Linked DNA regions of Homo sapiens. The protein of the gene in region 2 purifies or fractionates together with the protein of the main gene of each other region. This does not show direct contact. Each region holds a gene or a part of one and is shown on either strand. Other genes may lie near its edges. The genes, in order: PDC, CYRIB and LANCL1.

Evidence for each region.
Region 1: the proteins of CYRIB (region 2) and PDC purify together in Homo sapiens (affinity purification with mass spectrometry; one large-scale study listed by BioGRID and IntAct). This does not show direct contact.
Region 3: the proteins of CYRIB (region 2) and LANCL1 purify together in Homo sapiens (affinity purification with western blotting; one study listed by BioGRID). This does not show direct contact.

Annotation. Positions count from the first base shown.
Region 1 is NC_000001.11:186,458,275-186,462,718, forward strand, and holds the start of PDC (phosducin), read right to left. Parts: upstream 2,841-4,444; 5' UTR 2,785-2,840; intron 1-2,784. UniProt on the Homo sapiens protein: May participate in the regulation of visual phototransduction or in the integration of photoreceptor metabolism. Inhibits the transcriptional activation activity of the cone-rod homeobox CRX.
Region 2 is NC_000008.11:129,842,311-129,845,699, forward strand, and holds part of CYRIB (CYFIP-related Rac1 interactor B), read right to left. Parts: intron 1-3,389. UniProt on the Homo sapiens protein: Negatively regulates RAC1 signaling and RAC1-driven cytoskeletal remodeling. Regulates chemotaxis, cell migration and epithelial polarization by controlling the polarity, plasticity, duration and extent of protrusions.
Region 3 is NC_000002.12:210,438,644-210,442,298, forward strand, and holds part of LANCL1 (glutathione S-transferase LANCL1), read right to left. Parts: intron 2,801-3,655; coding exon 2,665-2,800; intron 2,102-2,664; coding exon 1,955-2,101; intron 1-1,954. UniProt on the Homo sapiens protein: Functions as a glutathione transferase. Catalyzes conjugation of the glutathione (GSH) to artificial substrates 1-chloro-2,4-dinitrobenzene (CDNB) and p-nitrophenyl acetate.

The DNA.
Region 1 (4,444 bases), on a different chromosome or scaffold from region 2:
ACAACTTTTAATACAAAATAAAAAGAATTAAGTGGCATCTGGGACAAAAAATTAGGGAACTAAAATAATTCAAAGGAAAGAGAAAAAGTCTTGGTCATGTTTGCCAAGCTTTGAATATTAGACCTTGCTTTTTTCCCAGAGATTGTCAGTGCACGCTGGTTGTGCAATATCAACCAGGATTAGGCAGGTGTGGGAGCCACAGAAGCCACTCCACCACACTTTTAAGTCATTTCATTAGAGTCGCCTCAGAAGTCCTGGTGAGACAATCCTAGGAGTCCTCTTTGGCTGTCTTGCTTGATATTCTCAAGCAAGTCCATTCTGCTAGACGCCTGCATCTGGGTACTCCTCCCTTTTTAACTCCAGTCCCCACAGGGTCATTTAAGAAAATGTATGCATGTTTCTGATTCATAACTATATTATGATGATTATTCTTATAAACCCTTTTGACGTCTAAAAGCCTTAGAGCCACTCAACAGTCCTGTTTGGGCCAGTCTCCTGGAATATGAGAAAAGATGAAGAATGGGAGTGTTATGGAGGGCATACGCCCCTCTGATCATCACCACAAAGAGTGGAGCCCTTCATGGTCCCAGCTGAAAGCCTGGAGAGGCTGCGCGCGGTGGCTCACGCCTGTAATCCCAACGCTTTGAGAGGCCAAGGCAGGTGGATCACTTGAGCGCAGGAATTCAAGACCAGCCTGGGCAACATGGCAAAACCCCATCTCTACAAAAAGTACAAAAATTAACCGGGCGTGGTGGTGGGTGCCTGTAGTCCCAGATACTCCGGAGGCTGACGCAGGAGAATCGCTTGAACCTGGGAGGCGCAGGTTGCAGTGAGCCGACATCTCGCCACTGCACTCCAGCCTGGGGGACAGAATGAGACTCCAACTCAAAAAAAGAAAAAAAGAAAAAGAAAGCCTGGGGATATTTACCAGGACCCTTCCTCCTTTTCAGGCCCTAGATTCTAAGATCCTGCTTTGCAGATCTGAAGTGGGACCCAGGAATCTTTAACAAGCTCTAAGCCTGCCGAGTGCCTGCGATTGCAGGCACGCGCCGCCACGCCTGACTGGTTTTGGTGGAGACGGGGTTTCGCTGTGTTGGCCGGGTCTCCAGCCCCTAACCGCGAGTGATCCGCCAGCCTTGGCCTCCCGAGGTGCCGGGATTGCAGACATACAGATATTCTTTTACTTGTTCTGGAGAAAATAGAATTTTAGAAATTCATAACAGCCATCTTTTTTAAAGTATCTGTTTATCTTGTAAATATACATATTCCTGTACATATTGTTTGAATTCCATTACAGACATTATTATGAATGGTTCATATATATTTTGATAATGACTTATATAATATCAAATCCACTTATAAACATAGTATTTGGGCAGAAATTGTCATGATGAATTAGATGATCTCTAAAGTTTTTTCTAGCTTTAATATGAGGTGATTCTAAGTAGCAGGTACAATGGACAATATGTGTGTGTGTGTATATATATATATATATATATATATATATTTAAAATGGACTCTATAGTTAGAAGCTATTTTTGCAGTTAATAAAAATACTCCATTGCAAATCAATTACTGCACTCATTTTCATGATGCAAACTGTAAGGTTTATTAGTAATAATAATAACCTCCATGGAAACAAAATAGAAAAAAAAAAACCAATTGAAAGAAAATTTTCACTGAATTTAAGAAATATCAACAAACTCTGTGTTCTTTTCTTTTAAAAACATTATTTCTGTTTCATTAAATTTCTAAAGTAACCTTTCAAAACAAACATTATTTCTACTTTAAAAATTAAAAACCACCAACAAACCACCGCCACAACAACATACTACTAAGGAAAAGCCTCAAAACATGCCTTAGCGCCGGATGAATACAGCAGTCCTCACTTATCTGAGGTTTTTCTTTCTGTGATTACAGTTACCCTTGGTCAACCTTGGTCCAAAAATATTAGATGAAAAATTCCAGAGATAAACAATTTGCAAGTTTTAGATTTGCAGTGTACTGAGTAGCTTGATGAAATCTCACACTATCCTGCTCTCTCTGGCCTGGAACATGAAACATCTCTTTGTATACCATATCCACACCATATGCATTACTGTCTTGGTTATCAGATTGACTATTGCAGTGCTTGTGTTCAAGTAACCCTTATTTACTTAATAAGGTCCCAAAGCGCAAGTGTTGTGATGGTAGCATATTGTTATAAAGGTTCTATTTTATTATTAGTGATTATGGTTAACCTCTGACTGTGTCTAATTTATAAATTAAACTTTATCACAGGTATGTATGTTCAGGAAAACAACATAGTATACACACAAGGTTCAGTTTTATCTATGGTTTTAGGCATCCAGTGGGGGTCCTGGAACATATCCCCCTTGGATAAGGGGCAACTACCGCACTCCTTTTCCAACTTGGGAGCCAGATCTTCAAACATAAAGTGCAAGGACTCATCATTTATTCTCTTTAGTTCTCCCTTCACTCAAAGGAAATTTAAAATTGCAAAATGAGTTCTCCATTCATGGTCTTATTTTAACAGTCTAGAATATCAGGCTCAAAATTGCGTGTTTACTCTGAATCTGTATTAGTGAAGATGACTGGTGGAAATCACTGAAAGAGAGAAGGATACGCTGTATTTAATTGTCTTTATAGTAGATAATTCAAAACCTTATGTACTTTGAACTATTTTACATTAACACAATAATACATAAACAGTGAATCACCATTCTTTCCCCTAAGGTAAAATTTTTAAAATTATATTATCAAAAGGACTACTTGTGGACTCACAGTTTGGATCTCTGTGCCTGGTGTCCTTGTTGAGTGGGTGAGAATCCCTGTCTACTGAACTCGTCTTGAACTTCAATAGGTTTAAGCTCAGATTTAAAATCTCCAGATATTGATGACCCTTGCAGAAATAGCTCTGAACAAGTAATAGGATTGACAGAATTAGCAAGGCCAGTTCATTAATAATAAGGCAAAACCAAACAAAGAGTAGTCAGTTTATATTTTACAGAACACATTGAATAGATGAGAGACAGAGGTCATTATTAGTACTATTTATCGCAATAACATGAGTTGTATTCATTAGTCCCATAATCATCTACTGAGCACCTACTTTGTGTGAAACAAGCAGTAGCTAGGCACTAGGGTACAAAGACAAATAAACCCTATTTCCTATATCGTGAGGCTTGCAGTCTAGTGGGGGAGACAGGTAAGTAAAAAGATAATCACAATGAAGTGCTATGATTACTACAACATTGGGAGGAATAAGAGAGATACTATGATTTTCATCTTCTCTTACTACAGGCTTTTAATACAATTTTTTCAGATGGGCTGTCTTTACAGATCTACTTGCTTTCTGGATTCTAGTTTTATTGGCATTTTCTCCTTTTCACTTCTCCTTATTGTTTCTGGTTTTTACCATTAAAAATTCCTTTCCTGCTGTTTTTTAATGGAGTTTTGAGATGTAGGGGAAGTAGATGCATGTGTTTAATCTTCCATCTTTTCCTAACATCTTTCATCCTCACAGCCAAATTCTCATCTAACTTTGCCAAAGTAGGAGATTTAATTTACTCTAAGCTTAAAACTGGAAATTTTTAATTAGCAAGAGGACAAAATTTTTAATATTAATGGCAATTAAAATGAACACATTTAGATTTTTAAATTATAAGGTTTAGTCATATGTAGCTTCACCCAGAAACTTTAAGTGGATCTTAATGCAATTTAAACAGTGATAGTGTCTAAATAAATTTTAATAGTTATGTTTTATTATACTAAATTAATTTGTCATTTATTTACTCTTTGTTAGTAAGAGGGAAACCTGTCACATTTCAGAACTTTGTTTGCTTATATATTTTTTATTGTAGAATTTGATTTCAAGAATAGAGAAGAGTACATAAAATTTACAATATTTAAGAGAGTCACAACCATAAATATTTTCAAAGAGATTCTTCCAGAAATCAAAGTATTTTCTAAATTAACTTTCATTTTCATCCTTAAATCAAATTTTTACCTCCCATTTAGCAGGTTTCATGTTCCAGTTTGTGTGCTATACATATGCTTTTCAACAGAGTTTCTCAGGGCAATTCACTTTCAGTTTTTATGAACTGAGTGTTTTCTCTCTAGCTAAAGAATCTAGAATGTAGTCAGGTGCAATACAAATGTAACTTAAAAGATGCCTTCTGATGGCAAATGTGAAGAAATTTAATATTTCAGTTTGATGATAAAAAATGTCATAGTGGTTTTAACATTCAAAAAATATGTTTTAAGTTACTGTCAAATATAGCTTGGTACTCATATGTTCAAATATGTAATATAGGCACAAGCATAGAGACTTAACGGTAAAAAAAAAATTACTATAGCAATTCCTATCCTACCCCCACCTTCCCAACACAGATATTTCCATAATTTGCTTTTTATTTTGTGCTATCTCTGGCACCTGTTCACT
Region 2 (3,389 bases):
AAAATTATGGCTTCTCATTGTAGCTTTAACCCTGTTCAGGTTCTGCACAGCCTGTCATCCTCACCCCCTTTCTAACTGAATAGCCAGTAGCTATTTAGCAGCTATTTAACTTAGTTACAACTACACTGCTGAAATGATTGGTTGACCTCTCAAGTAAACAATTAGCTGTAACTTCTCCCTCAGAAGAAAATGCTGTTCTATCCCAGAGGCTGGCAAATTATAGCCCATGGGCCATCCAATCCACCAATTTTTTTGTGGACTGTGAGCTAATTCTATTTTTTAACCTTTTGGATGACTGGGGGGCAAAGGAAGACAAAAAAAGAAATAGTAATATTTCATGTGTTATTGTGGAAATTCTATGAAATTCAAATTTCAGTGCTTACATATAAAAGTTTTACTGAAACACACCAAGTTGACTCATTCATGTATCATCTATGGTTACTTTCTTGTTATGGTGGCAGAGGTGAGGAGCTGTAACAGAAACCATGTGGCCCACAAGGCCTTTAATATCTACTTACTCTCTGGCTCTTTACAGAAAAGTGTTTCAACCCCTTTTCTATTCTGTATTTAAGATGCCTCAATTACTACAGCTGTTATATCTCTAAAATGTCTCAATTCTCCCAAGTGCCTTATTTCTAGGCATGTGTTTTGCTACATGCATGCAAATCCAACATAAGAATCCAAAAAAGAATCACAAAGAGTGATTATTATAAAGATTCACAACAGTATTCCCTTAAACAGTAAAAATCCACTAAGCAAGCTTACTATGTCTCAGGCACTGTTCAAGGAGCTTACAACCTAGCAGACGGAGAAAGATAATGATACACTAATATTAGTGACAGGGTAAAGCCTAGCAGCAAAGGAGAGAAGTATAACAAGAAGAGGCTACATACAGAGACAGGGAAACACCATCTCCCATGGACACCCAGAGGCCATACATAGTAAGGAGTTTGGAGATTATTTTAAGTGCAGTAAAAGCCAGTGGAGCATATTAAGCAGGAGAGGGGTGTGCTGCCACTTAAGTTTTATCATTCTGGCTGTTGAGGGCAAGCTGTGGAGAACAGAAGGAGCAGCAGGGAGGCATTAAATAAGGGGGCTGTTACTGAGCACCAAGTGTGAGATAATCAGATGTCAAGGCTTGGGCCAGATTACAGCAGCAATGGAGACAGGTGTTCAATGCGTGAATGTGGACTGTATTTTGGAGATAACCCAGACAGAGAAATCTGGTTCACAAGAATTCCACATATAATCTTAAGGACTAGATCGTTTTTTCTAGAGATAAGGTCTGGCTATATTACCCCGGTTGGCCTTCAATTCCTGGGCTCAAGCAATCCTCCTGCCTTGGGCTCACAAGTAGCTGGGATGACAGGTGTGTGTCACCATGCCCAGCTAGGACTACATCCTTTTCAGCAGGTCCACATAGATCTTTCTGTGTTTAAGAAATTTAAACCCAATTCCTATTAGGTTCATTTCAAATTAATTTAAAAACCGAAGAATGCTTATTAAGTACCTGATATACTGTCTACAATGTTACTGAGAAGTCACTCCCAAACTGTTCTCATGTTTTTGAATAGGTATCAGCGTGCCTGGCACATAAATGGTGCTCAATAAATACTTGCGGAAGGAAGACAAGATAAGCAGCCAGGTTGGAAAGAAAAAAAAATCCATAAAGGAATATTGACATTAAATGCTAAGTGATGTCACAAGGATTTAACCTTTTTGTTCTCTTTATGTAGATAAAGTATACGCAATTACACGAAATCCTACAGATGTCTCGTAGTTCTCAAAATTCTTCATTTGTTTCTCCTCCACTTCTTTATACAACTAAATAGTAGAAAGAGCCAAGCAATGTGCACAGTAAAATTTCTACTGCAGAGTAGTTAAAAGTATCACTACTCAGCAATGTACTGTACTATTCAAAGAGTGCTAAGTGTTTTCCTCTCTACCCATGACGCAAGTTCTCGCTCCTTCTGTGGGATGTGATCTTGGCTTCCTTCTTTGGACAAAGCCAATCCAGAGCACACTGCATCACCACACTCACTTATCAAGAAAAGGCCAATATTATCTAATATACGTGAAAATAAAACATGAAGATATATGGCATTATTTTCCTTTGTGCACAAAAACAAATTTTTTTTCCAAGTGCGACTGTTTTACTAAAGAAAACCAATTATTATTTACCTTTACTCTTAAATTTAATAAAGAAGACAATTATCTACTACTGAATCTGAACTCCCAGCTCTCTTTTTTTCTTTCCCTCTTATGATTAAATGTATTTGGTTCCATTTTTCCACCTGTAAAATGGACATATGACTTGATGCCTTCTCTTAGTAGCACAGGAAGTTCTATATAAATAATTACTACAGGAAAGCATTCAAAACAAACATATACATACATATGGAACTATTCTCTCATTTAAAATCTTTTGGTCTTTAAGTTCTATTTTGTGGAGGTGTGTAACACTCGTGTAGTACTTTTGGGGTTACAAAATGCTTTCTAAACATGTGCTCTCAGTAAAACATATTAAAGGCTAGATGGATTTCCTTTAAGAAATATTTTTCAAAGTATCAGCATTATCTACATCAGCTAGGGTGTTTGTTTAAAAGGAAAGTGCCTGAGTCCCAAGTCAGACCTGATTTTGTTGTTTCTAAAAGCAACATTTTATTTTCTAGTTTCCATTATCTATTATAATAGGAAAGAAAATGTACCAAACTGACAGGTGACTCTTGCCTCCGTGGTGCTTTCCTTCCCTCCCCTCTCCCTCAAACACAGATTACTTTGTGGGAGACTTCAACCCTGTCTTTCACTCGCCATCACTGGTCTCCTCTGCTTTCATTCTAAGGAAAAGGAAACTGAACTACCCTTAAAGTGAAACGTAGATTCTGAGTTAGGCATACTACCTTCAAGCTCAAGAAAGAATCCTAAAACCTCCTAGATCTCAATTACCTTCAAGTTTTTAAAAAAGATTTCCTGCCACTTGCTGGCTTCAAAGAGCCTGACCAATCAGAAAGACAAAGTCTTGGGAGAAAAATCAGGTTGACTGAGACACAGGGAGTATTCAGAAAGAAACCAAGGAGGAAAGACTCATGATATCATTAAATATTGGCAAAACCACTGAAGTATGCGTTGTAAAAACCCCAAGAATACAGAATTCTAAAAACTAGGCTTATGGTTAAAATAGTTTGACATTATAAGGATTTTAAATTATGTTCCTTAATCTTGCTGATGTTCATTTAGAATAGATCACCTTTATTCAGGCAGCTACCGCTTATGCAACACTTTTCATAATCTTTTAAAAACTATTTTTAAACATTTTTTCATAATCTTAATAAAATCATTTGACAGTTCCGCTTAGCTGAAATGATACAGCCTACATTTTATGTGGTAAA
Region 3 (3,655 bases), on a different chromosome or scaffold from region 2:
TAGAAAAAGGATACTAACAAGTTAAGAGACCTGGAATCTAGATTCCAAACTACAGCATGCCTCTAGATCAAGTCTTTTTGCAGAGGATTTAGGACTGATCTAAATGCCACATTATTTTGACATAACAACGTACAGATCCATAGGACATACTGACATACAGCATATGAGCCACCATTTTTGATACACATTTTAGTTTCTCCTTTTGGTCCTGTTCTTAATTCAATGACTGCTAATGTCTTTAACAGATTCAAAGTGCTGTTTCACTAGGCAAGGTGTGGGGCATGTGGTGGTGAGGGGTGGGCAGTGGTGTGAAGCACAGGCAGGAGGCGGTCGTGGTGGGGTCAAAGCAATGCTGACAATATGACTTCCACAAGATTCTGAAAGTGGACTGAGTTGTTTAGAAGGCAGATTTCATTTCATACAAAGAATAGCATTTAAGCTCAGAGTGTTACAGTAGAATGAGTGGACTCTCCTCAAACTTGCAGGAATTACCCAACATGGCCTAAAAATAATGATGTTTTATTTTATGTTGATGAAGGCGTACCTACTAGAATAGACTTTCAGGATTAAAAATTAAATCATTTCAAAGAGATGATAACCTGCAAATGGAAAAATCAATACTTGGGTTTTCAGATTTCTTACTACAGCTAACACAAGGAGGCAGAGTATGTCTCCTGATTATTTGTTTCAATGAAAGTTTGATGAGGCTGTCTAGTCACTAACCAACTATGTCTCCTGATTATTTGTTTCAATGAAATTTCGATAAGGCTGTCTAATCCTCTTTGGAGAGGGCCTCTAGTATGTTTGATTCTAACTAACCTTGAAACTTCAGAAGACTCTTCTTTCCTGAAAGCTTTTAGGAATCTACATTTACTACTGGGAATAGAGAGGAAGACATGCACCAGAAAAATAAAGAAATTTAAGTCTAAATGTCAACATCCTAATTATATAACCTCTAATTGAAAAGTGTAGAATAAATACGCTAGTCTCTGATTGCCACTAACACTCAATGTGTGACTCTGCATTCAAAAATAATAATAATCTTGAGTTTTTCAGTTCTGTTGTCCTTGTTTATTTATAGGTAGAGGGCAGGTCCAACACTGATCTTGTATTATAAGAGCCAGCTACTCAAAGAGCTGGTAGTATGTATATCCAAGCACTCCTGCTGAACACGTTAATGAAACACTTTTCTTTATGCCACAGTGTGCCTTGGGAAGGTGACAGGGGTACCTCTGCTGCCATTAAAAATCAATTTTCTTTGCCATGAATTCTTATTCAGAAGTGCCAGTTTCTCCTTAAGGAGAGCTTCGTAAGTCTCCCAAAATGATGCTCTCCTGAGAAGTCCTCTTCTGATCTCTCCCAAGTTATGTCTGCTGCAGTAAATTCTATCTGTCTTTAGTCTATTTGACTTTGGTTGATGTGCCCCAATAGTATTAGATCCCAAGAACTGTAGGGCAGAGCATATTCAGCTGTTTTTCAGGTAAGTAGAAGTCTCCTCAGCTTTGCTCTCTAAGTGAGCATTAGGCAACAAGTGCTCATTTGTTTTCTATTGATTTTGTTCTTATTCCTGGAATTTGTTGGAATCAGTTGTACCTTTTAATGTGGAATAATAGTTTTAATTCAAAGCACTGGCTGAAAGAGCAGAGCAGAGGCACTTCATACAGAATTATAAGTCAAAACACTTTAGTCTGCACAAGTGGCACTAAGTGGGCAAGCACGATCACCTGCAAATCAAACATCATTTTAAAACGCAGGGCCTTTAATGTTTATACACTTTTAAAGGCACCTTCGTAAACATTACTTTTGTTTGTCTAGGACAAGTAATTACAAGGAGAGTACTGTAATGCAGTGGTTGACAGAATGACAAACTAGAACTAGAATATCTGTTTTCTCACCCATGATAGTACATGGGTCAGGAAGGACATTTTAAAATTTCACCATAATCACTCCTTACCTGCATCAGGTAGTAATAAATTCCAGCCAGGCCATGAGCAGCCCCTACATAATATTCCTGGTACCATTCATACATCAGTGGAGACTTTGCCGTGAAGTTTCTCTTCCTAGCTAGGTTTTCTCCAGAGGTTAAAATTGTTTCACAAATCTACAGGGAGAAAACCAACCAAAATAACAAGTTAACTGAACAAAAATCTTCCTGGAGGAGGTAAAGACTTTTTTGCTAAGAGGTACTGGGGAACATGACAAATTAGACACCAGCTTATAGCCAGGGAAAGGCACAGTTTAATTCTCCATCAGAGAAGTGTGTGGGACTGTATTTAGCCTAGAAGGGGGAGGGCGTAGAGGATCTTGAGCTCTTTGCATTACAGTTTACAAGAGTTCGCCTGTCAAAGAAAAGCATAAACTCCTCTAGGCACCACCAAAGGAGATCCTCCATCTGGGAGGTGAAATTTGGCTCTAATCCTCTTTGGAGAGGGCCTCTAAATTCTGAAATGGAGCAGACTGGCCTTCGGACTCTTGAGACAGAAATGTTTCCAACAGCACTCCGTAGAAAGCTATTGGTTCTTGGACTGTGCCCAACCTTTAGAGGTCCAGATACACCTTCCTTTATATGGAATGTGCTAACTACAGAGACATAAACAATAGTTTAGGCAGATAGTAAGTAAATGGGATCCTAAAAAGGCTCCTAAAAACACAAAAACGTGGTACCTGCTGAATATGGCTTTGAGGAATCTTTTCCACTCCAAAGTTCTTATTGACAAAAAGAAGAGCATAGATGTAGCCTATTCGCCCATAGAGCATTTCATTTGGAGCATGAGGATCAATCTTATTTAGGTGAATTAGCCTAAAAATAAAAATACATGCCCCAAATAATTTGAAAGGAACCAGGTATTGGTGTATACTTAAAAATGGTACATTGAAAAAAATATACATGCACACAAAATATGTATTTATACATATATAATATCTATTTATAGAACAGTCACGGTTCACAGATTAGCCCTCCATTAAATTTCTTCACTTAACAATGGAACTGACAAATACATTCATAAAATGAAAGAATACAAATGTATGGCTGAGGCTATCTGAAATCTCCCTAGTTCCTCATGGAGGCAGGCCCTAAGGTGAGTATTTTAGCAGTTGGGGTCAAAGAAGCCAAGAACTGCTGGCTTTTAGGGCATTTAGCCCAGAGAAAGGACTAAGCCAACACTCAAATGGCCCATCATCTCCTTCCTTGGTTTATTTCTTAATGTGTCACCAGGCCTACTTGAAGTAGGTTTCATCTATCACAGTCAATAATACATGTACATTTTTTTTTTTTTTTGAGACAGTTTCGCTCTTCTTGCCCAGGCTGGAGTGCAATGGCGTGATCTCGGCTCACCGCAACCTCCGCCTCCCAGGTTTAAGTGATTCTCCTACCTCAGCCTCGCGAGGGGATGGGATTATAGGTACACACCACCACACCTGGCTAATTTTGTATTTTTAGTAGAGACGGGGTTTCTCCATGTTGGTCACGCTGGTCTCCAATTCCCGACCTCAGGTGATCAGCCTGCCTCAGCCTCCCAAAGTGCTGGGATTATAGGTGTGAGCCACTGCAACTGGCCAATACATGCAAATATTAATAGTACAAGAGGTGTCAGTCAGGTCTCCATCTCCTCAGTCTCCCAGCCTTCTAGTTCTCCTCAGAAATCACCATGGT